3 separate regions of the Homo sapiens genome follow, and regions 1 and 3 are each linked to region 2. The links come from fine-mapping of genetic effects on gene expression. A gene starts in region 2. Each other region holds a variant in brackets. All regions are shown on one strand. Distances are between the middles of the regions. Region 1 holds the start of LOC105378453 (a long non-coding RNA gene). Region 2 holds the start of SFXN3 (sideroflexin 3). Region 3 overlaps TLX1NB (TLX1 neighbor).

The links.
Region 1: its variant is fine-mapped to the expression of SFXN3 in breast (GTEx, PIP 0.94).
Region 3: its variant is fine-mapped to the expression of SFXN3 in sun-exposed skin (GTEx, PIP 0.99).

The regions. Positions count from the first base shown.
Region 1 is chr10:101,281,648-101,289,824 of GRCh38, forward strand. LOC105378453 (a long non-coding RNA gene) reads left to right here and starts at 2,276. Exons shown (of 3, transcript XR_001747306.2): 1 at 2,276-2,356; 2 at 3,513-3,677; 3 at 3,775-4,456. RefSeq lists enhancers at 3,465-4,374, 4,375-5,282. The variant C/A (reference allele first, on the strand shown) is at 4,433.
Region 2 is chr10:101,027,011-101,035,165 of GRCh38, forward strand. It overlaps SFXN3 (sideroflexin 3), which reads left to right and starts at 4,224. Exons shown (of 12, transcript NM_030971.6): 1 at 4,224-4,524; 2 at 5,304-5,472; 3 at 7,682-7,845. The coding sequence starts at 7,685. It overlaps PDZD7 (PDZ domain containing 7), which reads right to left and starts at 4,119. Exons shown (of 17, transcript NM_001195263.2): 1 at 4,063-4,119; 2 at 2,984-3,374. The coding sequence starts at 3,209. RefSeq lists an enhancer at 4,537-4,746.
Region 3 is chr10:101,102,668-101,110,844 of GRCh38, forward strand. The region is part of intron 2 of TLX1NB (TLX1 neighbor); the gene reads right to left. Among named protein-coding and RNA genes, the nearest start is that of TLX1NB, 24 kb to the right of the region's middle. The variant C/T (reference allele first, on the strand shown) is at 3,427.

The DNA.
Region 1 (8,177 bases), 250 kb after region 2:
AAAATATATGGATTCCAGGGACCCAGCCCTGAAGATCCAGATTGGCATGATCTAGGGTGGGGCCTGGGTATGTACATTTTTAAAAAGCTTCTCTGGGTGATTTCAATGCTCAGCTAATGGTGAGAACAGCTGGGGTAAAAATGTGTATGATCATCATTATTGTTTCAGTATGATCATCACTGTAGTTATCTTTTGGAGGATGAAAGTGGGGAAACACCCTTTAGAGAAGTCTATAAACACCTAGATCCATTGTAAGTCCTTAAATAAGGACCACTGTCACTGTCTTCGCTCCCTGGTCATCTCTGGCCTGGGGTTTCAGAGGCAGGTTCATAAGTGTGTGTGTATGTGTTTTCATGAATATGTGCTTGGAAAAGGCAATGAGAAGAAAGCAGATTATGAGGGGTTTCTGTCTTGAGAGGAAGCTACTGGAACCAGGAAGAACAAGCAGTCTGATTCCTAGGGGCTCAGGCCTATGCACTTAACCATAAGAAACAAGCGAAAGTGGCCCCACTGAGCTCCATGAGGAGCATGGCTAATCCTGTCACTCTGATTTGCATGTAGGGATGGTCTGCTTGTGGGGATGGTCAGTTCCTGCAGACCCGTAACTGCTGAGCTCATGAAGAGCCCCCTGGGATCTGGCCTGAGAGTCCATCAGCCAACTCTCTTCCTCCTGTTAGTACTTTCCCCCATAACCTGGGTATCCCAGGGTACTGTCCATCTCTGAGAGGTTAGAGCATGGCAAAGACCAACCCACCAATTCCCCTCTGCCCAGAGACCTCAGTTCCTGGGCCACTCTCTATCCAAGGCCACAAGGCCAAGTTCTAGGTCTCTTCCACTCTTTATACTCAGTAAGGGGGACTCTATGGGACTAAGCTAGGGTCCCTGCATGTCCTGGCATGGAGGTGGGAGTGAGTAGAGGGCTAGGGCTCAGAAAAGGATGTGGGAAGAGAAAAAGGGAAATAAAATAGAGGGCAGGATTAATGAAGTGGCTTCAAAAACTAATAGTGCATTTCCCAACATCTCCTCCTCTGACTCTCCCATCCCAAGGGAACCTGCCCACACCCCCAAAGCAGGCTGCCCAGCTCTCAGTCCACCTGCTAGGGTGGAAAGAGGCAGGAAGTCTCTCAAGGTGAGGGAGAGAACTCCCCTTCCTTTATACTCCAATCTCTAGAGATGAAACCCCAGGTCTCAGCCCCTCCTGTGAAGCACAGGCCCATCCCCACCCCTACCCAGCTTCAAAATAGCCAGTGGGAGGTGCATTAACTGGCGATGCTTTGGGGACAGCTCCCGCCATCCACAGCCCTGGCCATCTTAGTTTCTTTCAGTTCATCCCATCAAATGCCCTCCTTTCTCCCAGGCCTCCTCCCTAGAAGCTGACCTGGAGCTGGATTCCCAAATAAACAGTAACTAATTGGATTAGGAGCCGATAATACTGTTGACCTTTCTTAATGTCTACTGGCTGTCTTTCCACCACACTGAGGCTTAATTGTATGCAGTGGGGAGGAGGGTGGGGGACTTCCAGGAGTGAAATGTGACCCCTGTTAACCTCAGATAAAATGGGCTCAGCGTCTTCCCAACTGCCTGTCATCCCCCATGGAGCAGGAACACACACATGCTCCCTCTCTCATCAAATAATTACACAGATGATACACACATGCATAGGCATGCATACAGAGATGCAAACACACCCAGAGGCACATATGCATCCACACGTGGTGCACACATAACGTTGAACCTGGGTCATACATGTACACAAGTCACACTTGAATGATACACCTACAAAATTACATATATGAAAGACAAGTATATGCATATACACAGATACAGATTTGCAAAATGCAAACACACAGATACATATCGATAAATATATATTATTGCACCCATGATGCAAATGCATAATAGATGTATTCGCATATGTACACAAGATACATATGCAAGTAAAGATACACTGACATGCACACGTATGCATGATGCTTAAATAAATGAGCATGCAAAGTCCATGATACAAGTGCATACACACATATGCACGCTACGCATACCTTTGCACATCGATAGACGTCAGAGCCCCCACCACCACACACACACACACACACACACACACACACACACACACACACACAGGCAGTTTGCCCCATTCCACAGCCCATCTCCTTCCCAGTCTCTGCTGCTACCACTTTCTATTTGTTCCTGGGTTGTCTGGCTGTGTTTCTGGGATCCTGAGTATTATGGGTCTCTTGGAGTTCTGGCCCAGCCCCTCTGAGTGTCTCCTCCTCTCAGTATCTCTGGGGCCCTGTCCCCATGTGGATCTCTCTCATCCTGGGATGCTGAAGTGGAAAAGGACCTGGCTGCCACGGTGGTAGGGAGGGCATGAAAAGGGAAGAGATTAGAAGGGGAGGATGGGAGAGAAGGGCCAGAGAGGATGGAAAGGAAGGTCGGGGGAAAGGACCGGGAAAGAGGGGAGCGGGGAGCGAGGGGCGGGGGAGGGGCGCCTGCCTGCGCACAGCAGATGTTGCCGCTCCTCGGATGGAGCTGTTAATGTAAGTGGAGTTTCTGCAATGGTAATTAGGAGGGCCCTCATTACCCTGGCGGAGCCGGCTGAGAGCCGATAAAGCCGAGGGGGAGAAGGGCCGACATCAGGGTAATGGGGGAGCAGGGCCATTGAGGAGCTGGAGCCGAGCCGGGGACCGCTCCGCGCGCAGCTGGAGCCCGGCGAGAGGGCCGCGGAAGGGGGGTGCGAACCGGGGCCGGACCCCGGGGAGGAGCCGGGAGGCGAGCGGCGAGGGGCACTGCGCGGCTGGGTCTGCCCCGGGGTTTCGCACTGCGCCGCGGGTCGAAGTACCGCGAGTTGGCCCTGACTGTCTGCAGGATGAGGGTGTCGAGGAGGGTTCCAGGCCAGCGTGCCTGCCTCGCCTCCAGCCCGGGGTAAGGAGATCCACGGAGGCCTCTGCGCCTAAACTCAGGTGGCCAGACAGAGTTGGGGCGGGAGGCGGGTATACGGAAAGGACACCCTTCCCCTCTATGGGCCCCGCCCGCTGTGCAAGGGTGGGGAACTAGCACCCTCGTCCAGCGTCTAGCGTGACCAAGACATGTACTGTAGAATAGCCAACACAAGAGTTGACGGCTCCAGAATGTCAGATCACAGACGAGAAGACCAGCCTTCAGGGTTGGAGGTAGAAGCCTCTTGACTCTTTGGATTGAAAGGAGACCAGTCACCCCTCCTGGGAGGACTCTCCCACCCATCCTCCCCTACATAGTAACCTCTCAGCCCTAGAGGAGCTACAAGAAAAGCGAATTGGAGAAGCTCATCCAAGCAGTCCTAAGTACCTTGCTTCCATGCAGGGCTTTGCAGGAAGAGGAAGGGAGGCAGGGAAGGGTACGGTGACAGCTGTAGACATCACCTGCAGCTCTGCTCCCCGGCCAGGAACCCAGGAGGCCCTCCCAGACCCCCAGAATGGGGTTCTGGGGTGGGCAACTCATTTGCCATCTATCCTCCCCACACCTGAATATTTTAGGATGGGCCTCCAGCGCTTTCCAGGCTAACTCAGCGAGCCCAGTCTTCTTAGTCAACTGAGAGACATGTCTACAGAACAGACCATGTGGCCAACTCCTCCTCCTCCCCATGCCCCAGGCAAGAGGACTCTGGGAAGACATCCAGGAAGCAAGGAGTCTGTAGCCAGGTCAGAGAGAGAGGAGCTGTGGGGGTCTGTACAGACCACCTCCAGCAGAGAACCCATCCTCCATTTTCATCCCCTCTTCACATCCCTCCACCCACAGCTGCCTTCAGAAGCCCAAGGTCATTGGCCCTGCCACTCTGGTTTGCCAACTCCTCAAGGACCACATAGGCCCAACTGTTATGGAAAGGGTGGACCAGAGAGAGGGGCTTCTTTTCCTTCGGCTTTGGGGAAGGCAAAGGCAATTCCTGCCACTGCCCACTCCAGAGACGGCCGCATCTTCCAGGTGACTAAAGGCAAGTGATGGTTCTGAGGAGACCAGGACTGTGGGGAGCTCCTGGGCTCAGTGGGGGGAGCTCCTGGGCTCAGTGGGGGGAGCTCCTGGCCTCGGGGAGAGCCCCAGATGTCGCTCCCCTCTTCAGCTGCATGGCAGAGCAGGGGTTAACAGGGAGAGGCTGCAAGGCTGGAGCTGCGAGGCTGGAGCAGGCGGTGGCTCCCGCCTCTTCACCACCCCCCTCAAGAGTTGCTGACTCTTCCTTTTTGTTCGGGCTGACAGCGAGCACCTGGTGTGCTCCTGCAACAATATTGTTCCTGCCTCCCTCCCCCCAGGCCCCAGGCTCCCTTCCCTCTCCCCCTCCCCGCCCGCCGGCAACCTTCCCCTCTGCCTCCTCTTTCCCTTGCCCCCTCCTGCCTGTGGCCTCCTAGGCACCCCCCTACCACAACCACCACAAGCACCGACGCTGCAGTGTCAATAAACACAA[C/A]ATATGCTGCCATTAATGTGAAAATCGTGCCCTCTACCCCATTCATCTCCTCAGCCTGCCCGCCCGCTGGGGGTGGGGGTGGGGGGTGGGGGAAAGAAAGGTCAAGTGGGAAGCATTAACTACCCTCTTTTTCCTATCTGCTCAGCCCCCACCCCCACCCCCAGACTGGAGAGAAGAAAAGGAATTGGAGGAGAAGGAATGGGATAAGGGTGGGGGTTTTCTGAGACCCACATTCTCTCTGACATGCCCACTGAGCCTCCCCACAGGAAAACAGGTGAGCGTCCTCATCCAGCCCACGGTCTTCAACTTTGGGGTGGGGGCCAGAGTGAGGCCCTTGGCCTGCCCATGGACAGCCATGTTGCGGGCACGCTTCGCCTGGGGCCAAATGTGGTCACGCAAGTGGGTCTCTTTCTCCTGCACATCCAGCAGTCATCTCAGCTCCTGGGGACTTTCTGTCTGTCCACAGGATTATGAAAGAAATACTAGAAGTATTCTCCAAGTTGGGTTGGGCTTCAGAAAGCCCTTTTGATATAAGCCAAATACCTCAGATGGCCAAGGGAGTGGCCTGGCCTCAGTCTCCTCAACTAAATCACCAGTTCCAAGACAGCAGGGAATAATAAAGATAAAAATAATATAATAACGACAGCTAACATGTATTGAGGGCTTATTTATGTACTAGGAATTGTGCTAAGCACTTTACAGGCTTTATCTAATTTGCTCCCCATAAGACCCCTATGGGGAAGTTACAACGGATATCCCCATTTTACAGCTGAGGAAACAGGCTTCACAGGGTAGCTAGCATGTATTGAGTGCTCACTGCATGCCAAGCGCTGTGCTGAATTCACTTAGTACAATGTTTTCTTGTTTGTTTGTTTTTTTGTTTTGTTTTTTTGAGACGGAGTTTTGCTCTTGTTGCCCAAGCTGGAGTGCAATGGTGCGATCTTGGCTCACTGCAACCTCCGCCTCCCGGGTTCAAGCGATTCTCCTGCTTCAGCCTCCCTAGTAGCTGGGATTACAGGCATGTGCCACCACACCTGGCTAATTTTGTATTTTTAGTAGAGAAGGGGTCTCTCCATGTTGGTCAGGCTGGTCTTGAACTCCCAACCTCAGGTGATCCACCTGCCTTGGCCTCCCAAAGTGCTGGGATTACAGGCATGAGCCTCCGCACCCGGCGAGTACAATGTTAATGACCCTGCGGTGAGTACAATGTTAATGACCCTGCGAAGCTGGCATCACTATTAGTGTCATCTTACAGAACAGGAATCTGAGGCCCAGAAAGGTTCAGTAACTTGCCCAAGGTCACACAGCCAATAAGCAGAACTTGGCCAGGAACCCAAGTCTGTCTGACAGCAAAGCTTGTCATCTCAACCCCTATACTTTCCTGCCTCCTTTTTCTATCTATCACCATCTCCAGTAACCCCACAGCATGGCCCCCTCAAATCCGCCCTGTGTGGGGTTGAACAGATACAGGGCAATGCAGAAGGAAAAGCTGACAAGCGGCCTGAGCGTGAGACCGAGCCGAGACTTATTCTCTGCTCAGCTCCTCCCTGGTTTCATTGTCACTCCTTTGCCACTGAGCTGCGCCCACCCAGCCTGTGCGCTCACTGGACTCCTGCCCCCTGTCCAGCCCCATTTTAAGAATTCATCGTGGACAGGAAAAGTGCCCCTTCAGGCTCCCTTAGCATGAAGACATTGTGCTTGGCTCTGCAGCTCCTCACTTCTGAGACTCCAGTTGCTTTATTGATATTAACTTAACACTCCCCCGCCCGCCACTTCCCCACCCGCCCTAGCCCAGGCTGACGGGCAGAAATCTGCTGCCTGGGCACCACCCTGACCTCTCTTTTCCTCTTTCATTATCCACTCCAGGCACCAGGGAGCCAGCACCAAAATTAAAACAATAACTAAGCCCGAAGTGGACCCAGCAGCCCCCACTCCCACCCCAAGGGAGGGGAAAAAAGCCACAAAAACACCTGGAGAGGAGAATAATCACTGGAAGGGGAGGGGGTGACCCACTCCCATGCCAGCACCCTTCACCTGCCTTAACCCTTTGTTCCCTGGACAGTAACCAAGGTTTCCCCATTTCATCCCTCCCACCCAGTCCCATAAAGAAGCGGCAGCTTCTGGCAGCTGCTCAGTCATTTGGTGCAATGGGATTTGAATAAACAAACCGGGGACAGTGAGGTCCCCAGAAGTCCATAGTCAAGGGCTAAGACCCCTAGAGGCTTTCAGTCCTGCCACAGCATGAAGTTGGCTCATATCAGAGCCAGCGAGCCAGCTGGAAAGAAAGGACATGGGTCAAGGCAAGCCCAGTCTAGCTCTGTGGAGGCCAGCAGAGGGGGCTACTGTCCTGAGGTCAAGTGGTGGGAGAGGGAAGCTTAGAGAGGCCCATCTCAGGAGAGCGGAGGTGCTGATTATCCTGTAGTGGTGGGCACCTACCCATGCAGCCTCCCCGGACATCTATGGGCTAGCAGCTCCAGCAGGGGGTGTCCCTCCAGGGAGATTATCCTGTAGTGGTGGACATCTTCCCGTGCAGCCCCCCTGGACATCTATGGGCTAGCAGCTCCAGCAGAGGCTGTCCCTCCAGGGAGAGGGGGCAGAGCTAGCAGCACTGAACTGTCCTAAGTGTGCTGGGCTCTGCAGAGGGCCTTTCTGTCGTACGCCCCCTCAGCTCTACCTAGAAAGAACCTATCTCACTGCTCCATCGGTCCCACACCAGGATTCCCACACCCCCAAGCTGGCCCCTTCCCTGCCTCTACTCCACACCACACTCCAACCTCTCAGGGTCTTCTAACCACCCCCTTATCTTGTCCAAGGTGTGAATAAGTCCTTGTTTACCTTAATTCTGCTAACACCAAGAGGGAGACTTTTCCAAAGGCTCTGTACTACAAAACTGAAGGAAAGACTAGGAGAGCCAACACTTATGTTACCATGGCCAGGCCCTGTTCTAAGGACTTTTCCTAAGATTTGCACAACAATCCTAAGAGATAGGTACCCCTATCCTACAGACGGAGGAAAGGAGGGCCTGAGAATTCACAAACTTTAGCTGGTGAATGGCACAGCTGGGATTTTGATCCAGGCGGTATATGCTTATGCAACACTACTTTTTCCAAAGCAAAAAAAAAAAAAAAAAAAATTTAAGTCTTTATTTAAGTTCTTTATTCCACATTAGACTGTAGGCTCTCTAAGGGCTTTCTTGCCCATCATGGCATTCCCACAGGGTGAGGCAAAGTGGGACAACCATAAATGTGCACCAAAGGGATTCCAAGACAACTAAAGGCCTCCAAGGACTGCCTGACACACCCCAGTGGGCACAGAGGACATGATCCTTCCCCTTGCCTCAGCCATGGCTAGCATGGGTGCTAGACTCAGCCACACTGACTGCTGGCCACAAGCAGGCTTAGCTGAATCCAGAGCCAGGTCTGATGAGGTCCTCTAGCCTTTCCAGAACTCTTCCATCTTCTCATTGGTCTCCCTTGACCCTATAGGTTCTGACCCAGTCCTGGCCCCCTCAGCTCATCCTTATAGCCCCTCAAGGGCCTGCACCACCTGTCTCCAAAGACTAGTCACACTTCATGAGGGCCCTCATGGTCATGCCCTTCAGAGGCCACTACTCCCCAAGCCCGGCACTCTCCTGCTATCGTGGAGCATATTTGTGGTTAGGGCTGGCCCTGCCTTTCAGAAGCTCAGCCCTCTCACCCCACAGCCTGGTTTCAAGTTGTCCTAAGGACATGTGCCCTGGCCCCAG
Region 2 (8,155 bases):
TTCTCTACCTCCACTGCCCCAGCCTCTCCCCCAGGTGCTCCACTGCAGCCCCGGCACTATCCTTGCTTCCACTCTTGCCGCCTTTAGCTATTCTCTATACAGTACCCAGAGTCAGCTTTTACATTAGCTCATGTCTTTTCCCTGATTAAAAACTTCAACACCTGTTCCTGCTTCTAGAACTCCAGTCTCCTCACCATGCCCTATAAGGCCCTGCCTGGGCTTTCCTCTGCCCACCCCTCCGCCCTCCCCTCCACCCTCCCCTCCCTCACTGAGCTCTGGCCACACTGATCTTCCTGTTCCTCATGGAGGCCAAGCCCTTCCAGTGTTCCCTCTGCCTGCAGTGCTCCTGCCCAGGCCTTTAGAAGGTCAGCTCCTCTTCCTCGTTCCCCTCCTGGCTCAGACACCACTTTCTTGGAGAAGGCTTCCTGGAGTGTCCTCCCTTCCTCCCAGTGAGTACCTCTTGTAGGGCTTCTCAAAGCGTAATCCTGGATCAGCAGCGTCAGTGTCATCTGAGAACTTGCTAAAAACGGGAATTCCTTCGCTTTACCACAGACCCACTGGACCAGAAGCTCTGGGACTGAGCCCTGCAATCTATCCCTGAATGAGCCTTCCCGGCAATTCTGAGGCATCTGAGGTTTGAGAAGCACCATTCTATCATGTCATCAGATGATCACATTCTGACTCTTCCCATCCTTTGTCGTCGTTCGCTTATTTGTGATTTATCTGTCTCTTTTCACTAGACCATAAGTTCAATCATGGTGGGGACTTCGTAATACTCTTCTAGTATATCTCCAATATGTTGGACAGTGCTTGGTATTTGATAGGTATTTTTTTTGAATAAGTGAAAGAATAAATGGATGGATGGATGGTCAAACTAGGAGAGTGAGGAGAAATGCATTAAGGGTAATGCTTTCCTGGATTAAAGGTAATGCATTTTCTCTGGGACCAGTTGAATTTAAGGAGCTGGTGGGATCTCATGGGGCCGATGTAGGTGGCAATGTCACCGTTTATTCCTTATCAGTTACTTTACTCCCCGGGAGTGATCTAAATAATAACATGGGGCAGGGTTCCAGGCTGCGGTGACTTGGGAGATACCTGTTCTCAGGCAGAGGGGAGAATTCTGAGCTCAGAGGGTCCCAGTCCAGTCAGAGGAGAAGCCAAGTGGTCAGAGCAACTCCTCAGTCCCTCACTGCTAGGAGATGCTGCTTCCTTGGCTGCACAGTGGCGCTAGCATGAGGCAGAGGGAGAAAGCAATCATGAAACCCCTGGAAGAGGATCTTTAGAGGGACAGTATAGGCCAGGCATGGTGGCTCATGCCTATAATCCCAGCACTTTGGGAGGCTGAGGCCGGAAGATCACTTGAGCCTAGGAGTTCAAGACCAGCCTGGGCAACATGGTGAAACTCTGTCTCTACAAAAAATAAAATAAAATAAAATTAGCTGGGCTTGGTGTTGCATGCCTATAGTTCTGGCTACTCAGGAGGCTGAGGCTGGAGGATCACTTGAGCCCAGAAGTTTGAGGCTGCAGTGAGCTATGATCACACCACTGCACTTCAGCTTGGGTGAGCGACAGAGCAAGACCCTTTCCCTCTTAAAAAAAAAAAAAAAGACGTTATAAACAGCGCTTGCATCATACATGGGCAAAGGGAAGGGGAGAGAGAGAGAAACAGAAAGAGTGTATCAGAGGGAGTATAGCATAGTTCTTTTAATAGAATGGGACTAATAAAGACAGTTATGCGGTGCCTGCTTCCCTTTTCCCCAATGTCTCCTAACTCCTCTGGGGACTTCTGCTCCCTCACCAGAATGACCGTGGTGACCCTCAGCAGTGCCCTGTGCTCACCAGAGGGTGAAGCATAGACTGGTGTATGACAGGGGTGAGCGTGCCAGGGCACTGGTGGAGGAAAGCCTGCTCCCTGAGCAACATGCCCCACCCTGCTCCAGTGGCCTAGGGAGGGGAAGAGAGATGCCCTGCTGGGTCAGAGGGGGAGGAGCAGGGCCTGAACAGTCCAGTCTGGGATCCAGCCAGGGGAGCTCTGCTGGCTAAGAAAGAGGAGAGGAGCTGGAGATATTTATCTGGTCCTGCTCACAGAAAGCTCAGACTCAGGGGGCCTGGCTCCGCACCTGGCATTCTAGGTCCTGTCTTGCTCATCAGCTGTTAGTCACCTCACATCTGTCACTACAGCCAGGCTGGCTCCTAAGTGCCCACCTACCATGCTCCATGCTTTTCACTTCCAGCCTTTGTTGGTGACAGCTCACCCCTGCCACCAGCTGTTCTTATTGCTCTGTCCTGCTACACTGTAGATTCCTGGAAGGTGAAGAGGGAGCCTGATTTCTCTCTAGGTCCCTTGTAACACCTCCCCAGGGCTGGTATAGAATTGTGCTCCATGAAGCGGCATTAAGCAACTACATAAGCTTAGGTCTCCCCTTCCCTGATGGAGCTCCCTCTCCACCCTCAACCCTCCTCTTCTGAACATTTGCTGTGCTGCCTTCATTCCCCTCCTTCAGCACGGAAGCCCTGAATTCTGTCTACCCGCTTGGGCACTGACTCCTCGCAGCCCAGCACAGAGCTTGTCACACAATGGACTGGTTGATGGAGGATGTCCTTCTTTATCCTGCCCCATCCCCCAGAAGTACACACAATGGATCTGGAGAAGGGCAGAGCCCATGGGAGAGAGGCCAGTTCAATCCCCTGCCTTGTCCACCAGGGGCTAGCATACCACACGCATGCCTGTCCCTGCTGCCATGGCCTTCTTTCCCTCCTCTGACCCTTCTACGACCCTGGACCCCTGCAGGATTGGCCTGGAGGAGAGGCCAAGGGCAGGTGAGGAAGAGTGTATGGGTTCCCAGGCGGCCTGCCACCTCCCTGTGACTCCCATCTCTTGAATTCCCCCAATCATACTGGCTCTGCCTCCTCCTGCTGAGTTCCCATTGTCCCCTACCCCCACCCTCCCCAACCCAGGCCAGTGGCTGGGTCCCGCCCCTACCTTCGATGGGGGAGTTGATGAGGATGACGCGTCCCATGGGCGATGAGGCTCGGATTCCGCGGGGGGGCCCGTTCAGCAGCCGTTGTTGCTTCCTTAGCAGGTATCGCGTTGCGGTGGAGCCTGAGTCGCTGCCTAGGTGGCCTCGGGAGGAGAGGGAGCTCAGAGAGCCGGAGCTCAGGTCTCCTAGGCCCAGTGGGTCGAAGCCCACTGCGAAACCCTGCGCCATGGCGGCTGGGCTAGGGCGGCACCCTACAGGTCCAGAAGGAATCTGCTAGCTCTGGAGAGGCCAGCCCTGCGTGCTTCGAGCTCCATGAGCCTCTGTGCGGGGCTGGGGTCTCAGTAACGTGAAGGCCCTCGCTTGCGATGCCTCTCAGAAGTGTGAGCTCCAGGCCTGGGCAGGGAGAGCAGGGATGAGGGAGGGGTGTAAATGTTTCCCCTGCTGCCCCCTAAAACTTCCACCCCTCCCCCTGGTTTAAGCATCCTGCCCTCCCATGCCTTAGGCCCCCCTCCTGTCTCACCCTAGGCCAGAGAACTGCCCCGTCCAGGCACCATCTTGGACTCTCGCTGACTTTATACAAGGCAGGTGGGAACCTTTCACCCCTCATTCCTGCTCGGGGCTGAGTCATCTACTCCCGTCCCCAGTCCTCAGTAGAGGTTGAGAGTGGAGTTGGGATTACTGCGGGCCCTGGGGCTTAGAGAGGTGTGAGACAAAAGAGAGGTCAGGACAGCTCATGGCATCACCTCTCTCATGCATATGCGGGCATGGAGGTGGCCCGGGGTGGGGCGGGGGCTGCGTGGGGCGGGCTGGGCCTCGAGGATAGGGCTTCAGGACCTTAGACAGCTGAGGCCCAGGAAGACCCCCAGACACCCGCGGGCTCCAGGCTGCGGCTCCGGGTCTAAAGAGGCTGCATGAACCTCTCCCAAGCTTTGGGGAGGATCTGCTGGAGAGGGGTCCCACGACATCCCGCGCAAAACCCAGGGCCAGTTCCCTCAGAGAAGCTCTGGGACCTAGAATGAAGCACCCCAACATCAACTCGGCCCTCCAGGCCCCCCACCCCTTTGTGCCTGGTCGGCCTCACCTGGTCGCTGGTGTGGCGCCGCCAGCCTTGTCAAACCACCCGCAGGCGAGAGCTACTGCCGCAGCCGGCAAACCCCACCCACGCTGCGCGGAGGCTGCGGGAATTGGGCTGGCCTGCACCGCCCCGGGCTCCCATTGGCTGGTAGGGCCGCCAGTCATTCTATTCCGGCACCTCCCTTAGGCGCCAGGGACAGCCGAGCGTTACCTGGTCCCGGGCAGCGGAGTTCTTTACCCACCCCAGTTCTGGTTCTGACGCCCTAGCTCATTCCGCAAATTTAGGGCTTGGGTCTGGCTTGTTCCCCTCCGGCTCGAACCACCTCTTCTCTGAGCCGAGCCAGCTACCGGGGCTCCTGGAATTGCCACCCCTCCCTGGGCACCCTTGAGGCCTCCGTGGAGGGACGTCACGGGGCAGAGCGGGACGTGAGCCTGAGTTTGCTGCAGGCGTGCTCTGTGTGGTGGCTGGGTGAGTTGTGAGTATGTGCGTGGCGGAGGGGGTGCCTTCTTCACTTGCATCCTCCTCCTCTGTCAGAAGGCGTCTCTGGCTACCCAGTTCTGGAATGGTCGCAGGGTGGGGCAGCTGGTCCCAGGACCGGAAGAATCCTAAGAATCCTTCTGATGCACTTGCTCGGATGCAGACCGCGAGGTTCCTGGGGTCGTCTGCCCCTCCACATCTCAGGGGTGGGGCTACGGTCTGGGGTGCAGGGCTAGGGGTTGGGAGCGTAAGGAGACCAGGGACACAGTGGAGCTAGGGGTTACAGAGGGGGAGCAGGGAGAGGGCTGGGGACATAGAAGAGGCACAGGCACGACAGGAACGGGGCTGTGAAGTGATGCGAATGCCGCGCTGCTACAAGAGGAGCTTGTGGATACTGGGGTAGGAGCCCAGGGGGACAAGCAAGCCAAAGGCCATTGCCAAGGCAGCCATCAAGTAAACAAGCCAGGCGGTAACCCGAGTCCCTCCCGGCGCGCCAGCAGAGGACCGCCCCTCCACACCGCCCACCTGCGCCCGGGGCTTTCTCTCTGGGCACCTAGACCGCTTGCTGCAGGGCTGGGGGTCTGCTGAGGCCCGCCAGGGGACTGTAAACCAAGGGAGCAGCGCCCGCGGCTCCAGCCCCTCCTCCCTTTGGCTGGGGAGGGGGCCAGAACTGATCCCCGAGGTGGGATTGGCTCTGGGAAGCAGCTTAGGGCCTGGTCCAGGTGGCCCAGGCTGGGGGCATCGCCTCGAATGACACCCACCGCCCTCAGGTTCTGCCAATCCCCGTGCCCACCGGGTGGGCGCGGCCGGGAAGCTCCTGCCCCTCCCTGCTGGTCGGCGTCACGCGTGACGTCCCGCGTGATGGCTGGGAGGGCCCGGCGGCGACAGCGGAGGCAGAGAGGAAGGCGGTTCTGAGAGCTTCAGAGAGCGATGGAAAGCGTAAGTGCTCGCTCTCCCCGGCGGGCGGGGTTCTGGAATGGGGGTCAGAGAAGGAGGCCTGCCTTGAAACTGTCTGTCCTGGTGCAGTCAATGTCCTCGGCTCTGTGGAGGTCCAAGTCCACAGGGCACAAGGGAGGTTGGGGGGAGGAATGTCAGGGTGGGGCTGTGTGTAGTCACACATTCAAGTGTCTGCAGATGGGCACAGTGTGCGCCTGTAAAGGTGTTTGAAGGCCGGTGTATACAGGACACCTCCACTCTGTCTGTATGTCTGGGCAGGGTGTGCATGATAGTGTCTTTGTGTGTGGGTATGTGAGTGTGAGGGGAGGGCGTCTCTGCCTCTGCGGGAGGAAGTGTGGCTGGAGAGGATTAGTCATTCTGTAGGATTCTGCCCAACTCAGCCAGATGGCTGCACCAGGCTTTCCTCTCTGTGCTGGGTGGAGGGAGCAGCCACTGAATCCTGCTCTTATCCGGAGGCAAGTGGCCCAGAGAGAGGTGGATGAGTGTCTGTGCCAGCCCTGCCTGGCCAGGGACCAGGGAGAGCCTGGGGTCATTCAGTGTGAGTTGGAGAAAAATGGGTCTGTAGAGAGGACTTGTGCGTGCCCACATGCACACACATGGCTGACATCAGAGTCCCCTGATTGAGATCTGGAACAGATAAGCCCTGGGTGGCCAGTAAGGCCTTGCTCTCCTCCAATCAGGGACTGGAGTGTGGGATGTCTTGTGCCATTTTCCAAAACAGCCTTGGGGGTTTGTATCCAGGTCTCAGTGCAGCTGGGGCCTAAAGCTCACCTGAGCATGGGTGTGTAATATATATATTATATATTCTTGTGCATCTGTAGCACACGTGGCTGGGATGTTTGTTGCTGCTTATGTGTCAACCACATATATGTAAATCCTCACTCATGAAAATCTGTACCAGGATAGAGCACAAGGAGATCTGTTTTCCTGTTTCTGGTCTTCCCTTCCCCCTCCTCCAGTGGCTGCAGGTCCCTGGGCTGGGACATTGCCCAGGAAACAGCTCCTCCCCACACCCTTGCTTACCTACCTAGTTGAAGGGGTGGCCTGCCCCTCCACACCTGTGGGTATTTCTAGTAGGGTGGGACAAGAGACTGAGAAAAGAAATAAGACACAGAGACAAAGTATAGAGAAACAACAGTGGGCCCAGGGGACCGGCGTTCAGCATACCAAGGATCTGCACCGGCACCGGTCTCTGAGTTCCCTCAGTTTTTATTGATTATTATTTTCATTATTTCAGCAAAAAGGAATGTAGTAGTAGAGCAGGTTGATAATAAGGAGAAGGTCAGCAAAAAACATGTGAGCAAAAGAATCTATGTCATAATTAGGTTCAAGGGAAGGTACTATGCCTAGATGTGCATGTAAGCCAGATTTATGTTTCTCTCCACCCAAACATCTCAGCGGAGTAAAGAATAACAAGGCAGCATTACTGCAAACATATCTCACCTCCCACCATAGGGCGGTTTTTCTCCTATCTCAGAATTGAACAAATGTGCAATCGCGTTTTATATGGAGACATTCAGTTCCCAGGGGCAAGCAGGAGACAGTGGCCTTCCTCTATCTCAACTGCAAGAGGCTTTCCTCTTTTACTAATCCACCTCAGCACAGACCCTTTATGGGTGTCAAGCTGGGGGACGGTCAGGTCTTTCTCATCCCACGAGGCCATATTTCAGACTATGCATGGGAAGAAACCTTGGACGATACCCCGCTTTCAAGGGCAGAAGTCCCTGTGGCTTTCCGCAGTTAATTGTGCCCCTGGTTTATTGAGACTAGAGAATGGCAATGACTTTTACCAAGTATACTGCTTGTAAACATTTTGTTAACAAGGCACGTCCTGCACATCCCTAGATCCCTTAAACCTTGATTTTATACAACACATGTTTTTGTGAGCTCCAGATTGGGTCAAAGTGCTGGGGCAAAGTGGCTGGGGCAAAGCTACAAATTAACAACATCTCAGCAAAGCAATTGTTTAAAGTACAGGTCTTTTTCAAAATGGAGTCTCTTATGTCTTTCCTTTCTACATAGACACAGTAACAGTCTGATCTCTCTTTCTTTTCCCTACATCTAGTCACCTTGAGCTCTTGAAGGGACTGATGATAAGCTCAGGGGCCAGGGCAGGGGCACCAAAGATTTCCCCTAGCTGGAGCCCTTGGACCCTTGGACTCCCGCTCTGACCCTTATCTCTGTCCTGCAGAAAATGGGTGAATTGCCTTTAGACATCAACATCCAGGAACCTCGCTGGGACCAAAGTACTTTCCTGGGCAGAGCCCGGCACTTTTTCACTGTTACTGATCCTCGAAATCTGCTGCTGTCCGGGGCACAGCTGGAAGCTTCTCGGAACATCGTGCAGAACTACAGGTGACCACCCCTCAATCTGACCCTGTGTGCCAGGATCTCATTTTCTGTGATTAATATAATATGTTTTGTACCTGCCTCCTCAAGCTTGACAGTGACCCTGTCCCTCAATCCCCTCACTCTCTAGCCCCGTCTGTTGGCATCACAGAGCTTTAACCCAAAGGATTTTAGGGCATTTGGGTTGAGAAGATGGCATTGATATTTATGGGAGGGGCTGCTCTATGCATCACAAACCTCTACAGGGATCTATCCCATTGCGGGGTCACCCTCTGCAAGGATAGAGGTGCTCAAAGTGGAGTCCCAGGAAGATAGG
Region 3 (8,177 bases), 76 kb after region 2:
TAGGCTGGGAGGGCCATTCTGTAATCAATTGCCATCATCTTGAGCATCTGGTGAGAGCTAATAGTATGTTGGGCACCAAACTAAGGACTTTATATGTATTATCTCAGTGTATGTTCACATCTCCAAGAGATAGATTGTGCAGTGGTGCGATCTCGGCTCACCCGCAACCTCCCCCTCCCAGGCTCAAGCCATTCTCCTGCTCAGCCTCCTGAGAAGCTGGGATTACAGGCACACTCCACTACTGCCTGGCTAATTTTTGTATTTTTAATAGAGATGGGGTTTCGCTATGTTGGCCAGGATGATCTCAAACTCCTGACCTCAAATGATCTACCTGCCCCAGCCTCCCAAAGTGCTGGGATTCCAGGCGTGAGCCACTGTGACTGGCCAGGTTCTCCTATTCTTATTTTACAGATGAAGAAATAGGCAAAGATGTTAAATAACTTGCCCAAGGTCACTCAGCTAGGAATTGGGACTGGAGCCTCGTGCATCTTCACCACTGAACTGCACTGCCTGTCATAGTCCTCATCAGCAACCAAGGCTCAGTTAAGTCCTCTGCCTAGGATCAGCCTCACTGGATTTTTCCCAGAGAAAATGTCAGGCCAGGGCTAAGGCTCATACCCAGAAAGCTGAGGGAGGGAGCAGATGGTAACCCCAGGGGGATTTTGCCACAGTGGAGTTAGGGATAGGAGGTCAAAAGGACTGCAGTTGAGTCTTGCTCTGCCTCTTGTTATCTGAGTGAACGTGGCCAAGTCTGACCTCTCTGAACTTCAGTTTCCTCATCTGTGACATGGGGATGGCAGTAGAAGCTACCTCTCAGAGGTTATGAGGAACAAATGAGGAAATGTGCAAGGCAGGATTGTATCAACTGCAAAGAGCTGCCTGATGTAAGTGACTGTTAGTGCCAGCAGTCACTCAATATTTATCATGAATTACTAGGACCGAATCCAGGTGCTGTGAGTACAGCCATGAGCCCCTGGGCCTGGACTTGTCCCTAAGATGACAAATTGCAAGTCAAACAAGAATACAGTCACCTTGCCACTCTCCGCCTTCCATGGGCCTTTTGTGATCTTTCTGAAGCTATGACTTGGGCCCTGGCCATCTTTCCTTACCTGTGTAAACTGAAGGTCTTTAGCCCTCTAACAGTCTAGACAGCCCCCAATTTTAACATTCCAGGGGTGGAATGGGAGGCGGGTCCTTGTGACATTTGCTAAAGCAGAATTGCTGCCAAAAAGGGGCCTCTTTCTTCATGCAATGAATAAAAATCTTAGTGCCTCGTGTTTGTGTATGTCAAGACTCACTGCTGAAACTTTTGTTAATTCATTTATTCAAATGAACCACATTTATTTAAATTTACTTTAAATTTCAAAAGTAAACTAAAAATGCATTCTTGTTGTAAGAAATACAGATGAAATAATCCTTCCAATTCCAGAATCATCTGCAGAGGTCACTGCTGTGGTCAATTCACTGTGTATCCTTCTAGATCATTTCCTACGCATTTACCTACATGTATATATTATTCAAGGAGAAACATACGATTTTTTTGTTGGGTTTTTACCTTTGTACCTGAGTATTTTTGTTTTTCTGCAATTTGCTTTTCCAGTGAGCGGTGGCTCACGCTTGTAATCCCAGCACTTTGGGAGGCCGACGCAGGCGGATCATGGGGTCTGGAGTTTGAGACCAGCCTGGCCAACACAGTGAAACACCGTCTCTACTAAAAATACAAAAATTAGCTAGGTATGGTAGCGGGTGCCTGTAATCCTAGCTACTCGGGAGGCTGAGGCAGGAGAATCACTTGAACCTGGGAGGTGGAGGTTGCAGTGAGCTGAGATCGTGCCACTGCGCTCCAGCCTGGGTGACAGAGCTAGACTCCATCTCAAAAAAAAATGTATCTATCTATCTATATATATGGCTTGGAATGAAAATATGGCATGCACATTTTCCCATATCAGAACATGGAGGTCTACCTCATTATTTTTAATTGCTTCACCTTAAGTATTCCATAGATGGGGGTGCCACTGTTTATTCACCCATTCCCACTGGTGGACTGTTAGGTTGCTTCTGATTTTTCATTGTTGTAAATTTGCTTAGTGAACTCTCTGGTATGTGGTTCTGTGGGCAGACATGGCTATTTTGTTAGGATAATGGATATCTAGAAATAGAGTTGGTCAAATGAAGATGGGTATTGTTAATTTTAATAGAAACTGCCAAAATACCTATCAAGAAGACTGAACCAATTCAGGGCACTTCCAAGAGAGGATGAGAAGACCAACTTACGTACACACTCTCTCCCATGCTGGATACTGTCAGTACGTTGAATTTTTGCTAATCCAATGGATGAAGCTAAAACAAATCTTATGTCTATTTTAATTTGTAGTTCTCAAATTATGATTGCATTTCTCTCATGTTGAGCATATTTTCCTAAGTTCATTGGACATTGTGTTTTTATTTCTGTAAGTCACCTCTTCATATACTTTGCCCATTTTATTTTTATTTTTATCTTTGGAGACAAAGTCTCACTCTGTCATGCATGCTAGAATGCAGTGGGCGATCCGGGCTCACTGCAACCCCTGCCTCCCAAGTTCAAGAGCTTCTCCTGCCTCAGCCTCCCGAGTAGCTTGGGTTAAAGGTGCCTGCCACCACACCCAGCTAATTTTTGTATTTTTAGTAGAGACAGGGTTTCGCCATGTTGGCCAGGCTGGTCTTGAACTCCTGACTTTAGGTGATCCACCTGCCTCAGCTTCCCAAAGTGCTGGGATTTCAGGGGTGAGCCACCGTGCCCAGTTGCCTATTTTAAAAACTGGGGTTTCAAAAATATTTTTCTTATTAATGTGTTGGAAATTCTTAATTCTGGTTATTAATATGTGTTGTATTTTGGCTGAGTGCAGTGTCTCATGCTTGTAATCCTAGTACTTTGGGAGGCCGAGGAAGGAGGATTGCTTGAGGCCAGGAGTTTGAGACCAGCCTGGGCAACATGCAAGACTCCCATCTTTACACAATATAAAATAAACAATTTAGCCAAGCATGGTGGCATGTGTGCCTGTAGTCCCAGCTACTCTGGAGACTGAGGTGGGAGGATTGCTTGAGCCCAGGAGTTCGAGGCTGCAGTGAGCTATGATCTTGCCACTGCCCTCCAGCCTGGGTGACAGACCAAACACACACACACACAATTTTATTTTAATTTAATTTCTTTTTCTTTAGAGATGGTGTCTCCTCCTCTTGCCCATGCTGGAGTACAGTGGCATCATCAGGGTTCACTGCAGCCTTGACCTCCTGGGCTAAAGCAATCCTCCCATGTCACCCTTCAAGTAGCGGGGACTACAGTCACGCTGGGCATCTTTCCAGTACACCCTGTGTCATCATATAAATGATCCGTTTCCTTAGCAAGCAACCTCTTCCCAACTACAATGTCCATTGGAGGGCCAGGCA[C/T]GGTGGCTCACGCCTGTAATCCCAGCACTTTGGGAGGCTGAGGTGGGCAGATCACCTGAGGCTGGGAGTTCGAGACCAGCCTAGCCAATATGGTGAAAGTCCATCTCTACTAAAAATACAAAAAAATTAGATGGGTGTGGTGGCACACGCCTGTAGTCCCAGCTACTCAAGAGGCTGAGGCAGGAGAATCACTTGAACCCAGGAAGTGGAGGTTGCAGTGAGCCGAGATCATGCCACTGCACTCCAGCCTGCACAACAAGAGCGAAACTCCATCTCAAAAATAAAACAAAATAAATATAAAATAAAATAAAATAAAATAAAATAAAATAAAATAAAATAAAATGTCAGCTGGGGGACAGGGACTGTGTCCTCCTCATTTTTGTCTCCCTTGCACCAACACAGAGCCAGCACCCCTGGGTGAATGCGCATACACCTTCCCGTGCCAGGCACATGCCCACACTTCCCTATGCTCAGGCTGGTGTGTGGGGGGGGTGTCTCTGGGTAAGCACGTGCATGACAAGTGTTGAGACTGCACATCGACATAGCCCACATGCTTGCGTCTCAGTGTGGCCATATGCATGCAGCTAGCACACCTGTGCTTGTGGGCATGGGAATACACATGTGTCTGCCTTTCTTCCCTTGACAGTTTTCTGCCCTCTACTTCCTTGGGTCAGAAAAAGCAGGAACTTTTTCTCTTGGCAGGAGGAATATTTATTAACAGGGATAAAGTGAGGATACTGCAATCCTTGTAGTTTCTCCTGGGGAAGCCTCATTCTTTCTGAGGCCTCTGCCCGCCTTCTTTGCTCTCTTCTCCCCTCCTTTTTCTATTTCACATCTTTTTCCTTCCCCACTTCGGGAGGAAGCTCATCTAAGCTCAGCCTTTGCTGACAAGGCCATTTGGGCCCATTAGTTGCCTCTAATGAGTGACTGCCTTCTCGGCCCCTTCCCCCACAGCAACTGGGAGGCAGGGATCAATTAGCTGCTGCCGTAAACACACACACACACACACAAACACACACACACACCCTTACATGTGTATTTATGCTTCCACATGTATATGTACACGTCACATACTATATATGATCATAAATACACTCATAGCAAATACACATACATCTTCTCTTCTTGACCAGTAATATCTCCTAGGGGTCTCTACTCTGCTCCTTGCTCTGTTCACCAAGAAGAACACCCATGGCCAACCCCACACTCCCCAGCTCAAACCCAGATTCCCACGATTCGAAATGAAGTTCAACTCTCATGTTTTACAGGTGGCCAAATTGAAGCTCAGAGTAGGGAGGTGACTTGTCCAAAATCCCTCAGTCAGTTAGAAGCCAAGCTGAGCTTATGCTCAGTCCTATGCCCTCTGATGCCCAGTGCAGTGCTACTGCATCCGAGAGAGAAGCGGGGTGTCCCATGCAGGCCCACCTTGATCACAACAGAGCTGTGGCGCTTCAAAGGTAGCATGTCTAGGTTAGGGTGTGCAGGCATGATCCTTAAGGTGATAGGGACTGGGGAGGCTCTGCCATGAACCAAGGAGGGAGAGGGTGGGCTTTCAGGGAGGCCTGCCTTGTCCCCTGGGTTGGCCTGGCCTGGAAATTGTGGAGAGAGGAGTCCAATCTCAGTCTCCCTCTGGCTTCTGCAAGTCTCACCGTGGCTGTCTCTCCCTCCACCGAGTACTGACCTCAGGAATCCCTGATTCCTGGCAAGCTCCCTCTTGGCCAGATAGGAAGGGGGCACCTCACTGAGTACCCTGTTCCAAAGTGTCCTCTGGGGGAAGATAGGTTCCATCCTGGCCTTGGCCCTGGCCTGTTCTCCAGATTCCACACTAGGACGGGAGGTGTGAGGACTGGGTCCAGGCCTGAGGCACGCAAGACCCAGCAAAGTCCTGCATGACCAGCCTAGGCCACCTGGGTCAGAATGCCGTGGCACCACTGTGGCCAGCCACTTGGAGACATTCGTAACAAATACACATACATCCTCAGCAGCTGGGTTTATGGCTGAGTCTTAGCAATTTTGTCTCCTAAGGTCCCAGCCCTGCCAGGGACCCAGGCCCTGAATGGAAGAGCTGAGGACGGGTCTGAGCGGCCCTTGGGGAAACTTACCCAGGAGGGGTCACAGCAGGGGCAGGGGCTTCCAGAGCCCCCTTTCACCCCAGAAGCTGGAAATGATACTCTTCTTGCCCCCGCTCAGTCCCTCTCCCAGAGGCGGATGTTGTTGGGGGGCTGCAGTTCTCATCTACAGGCCCCTCTTCTCCCTGGGAGCCCCAGACCCCGCCTCCTCTCCCTATCCTGAGTCCCTGGCTGGAGCTACTGTGGAGACTGAGGCCTGTTACCTGCCACTCTCCATAGCCCTCAAGGCCGCAGTGAAGCCTGCCGGGGGCTTGAGGGGGCATCCTGGGAGCCCATCCCTTGGCTGATCTGGGTCTCAGTCAAGTCCCCAGGCCTGCTCCCTGGCCTCCCCCTCAGCAGGGCTTAGCTCAGCAAGTCCTCCCTTAGATTAAGTTTCCAAAGGGAATGTCCTTTTCCAGCGCGGCCCTCGCCCTACCCTGAAAGGCTCAGAGCAGCAGAGTCTTGGCTCTAGGGGTGTTGAGCCAGCAGGTGCCAACAGGGGATGGAGGAGGCAATGGGCCCTGGGGCAAGGGCAGTGGGGGACATGGGCTCCAGGTCGGGAAGACTTGGGCTGAAATCCTAACTTCCATTTAGTACCTGAGTGGCCTTGGAGAGCTATGCCACTTTTTTCCTAGAGAGCTTGTTAAAATACAGTACCGGGCCGGCGCGGTGGCTCACGCCTGTAATCCCAGTATTTTGGGGGCCGAGGCAGGCGGATCACCTGATGTCAGGAGTCCAAGACCAGCCTGGCCAACATGGCGAAACCCCATCTCTACTAAAAGTACAAAAATTAGCCGGGTGTGGTGGCACATGCCTGTAATCCCAGCTACTCGGGAGGCTGAGGCAGGAGAATGGCTTGAACCCTGGAGGCGGAGGTTGCAGTGAGCCAAGATCACACCACTGCACTCCAGCCTGTGGATGGAGCGAGACTCCATCTCAAAAAAAAATAAAAATAAAACGCAGTACCCCACTCTTAAGAGTTTTGTTTTTTTTTTTTTTTTGAGATGGAGTCTTGCTCTTCGACCAGGCTGGAATGCAGTGGCACGATCTCGGCTCACTGCAACCTCTGCCTCCTGAGTTCAAGCAAGTCTCTGCCTCAGCCTCCTGAGTGAGTAGCTGGGATTACAGGTGCCTGCCACCACGCCCGGCTGATTTTTGTATTTTTTAGTAGAGATGGGGTTTCACCATCTTGGCCAGGCTGGTCTTGAACTCCTGACCTCGTGATCCACCTGCCTCAGGCTCCCAAAGTGCTGGAATTACAGGCATAAGCCACCGTGCCCGGCCAGAGATTTCTTAATGTGTAAAATGAGGAGAACAAGGGGTTCTCCACAAAGACTTCCTCGCAAGAATGAGAAGCCATGTATAATCTCTATTACTGTTTACTTACGTGTGCACTGACAATTTTTGGAAGGGCATACCTCCAGAAATGGGAATAACAGGAGGAAGGAGGGAGCCTTTTACTTTTCACTTTATTCTCTTTTGTCCTGTTTTAATTTTACTATGAAGCATGCTTTATTTTTATTTAAAGAAAGGAAGGGAAAGAAAAGAAAAGATGAACCGCTCCCAGCCAAATAGCTGAGCCCCAGTTGAGTCAGTAAACGTAGTCTTAATTGTTATCTGTTAAATAGTTAACAACCCATCCTTCACTGGGCATTGTTTCTGGGTGTGAAAGTGATTTGTAAATAAATTGCTGTATAAATGTTAGTTATGATAAACAACTAGGTAATGATGTATTTCTATGCACAATTATGTATGTGAGGTGGCCTGTCCTAAATATGAGTGGCTGTGTATATCCTTCAGGGGAATTATGCAAATATTGTAAAGCGGTGGTGAAGAGCACGCTGTCAGTAGCCATGCTGCCTGGGTTTGAATCCTGAATTCAGTATCTACTGGAGATATGATCTTGGGCAAGTTACTTAGCCTCTTTGTGTCTCAGTCATTCTGTCTTTAATATGGGGACAATTAGGCCAGGTGTCTCACACCTGTAATCCTAGCACTTTGGGAGGCTGAGGCAGGAGGACAGCTTGAGCCCAGGAGTTTGAGACCAGCCTGGACAAGATAGTGAGACCCCATCTCCACAGAACAAAAATAAATAAATAAATAAAAACAATGGGGATAATTAGCCAGGCATGGTGGGGCACCACTGCACTCCAGTCTGGGTGACAGAGCAAGCTGCCCGCCTCTCTAAAATAAAAAAATAAAAAATAAAAAAATAAAATGGGGATAATACCTACTCCATAGGATTGCTGTGAAGGTTAAAGTGAACTAAGTCATGTAAAACTCTTAGAACATCCCCCAGCACATGGTAGGTGTTCAACAAATGTTTTTTATTTTGTGTATCTACGTGAGCATGTTAATGTTTCTCATCCCTTTAACAGGAGGAGCAGGTGGCCAGACACGGTGGCTCACGCCTGTAACCCCAGTACTTTGGGAATCCAAGTGGGGAGGATCACTTGAAGCCAGGAGTTAATAATAATAATAATAATAATAATAATAATAATAATAATAAAAGGAGGAACATTGTCTGACCCTTCCCCCATTAGAGGGGCTTTGTGGCTCTGTCCATCCTTTCAGTCTGTTTGTAGACACTTAACTTTGGTAACTGCGAGCATCTGGAGTGCTTGAGGAAGCTGGGCTTGCTCA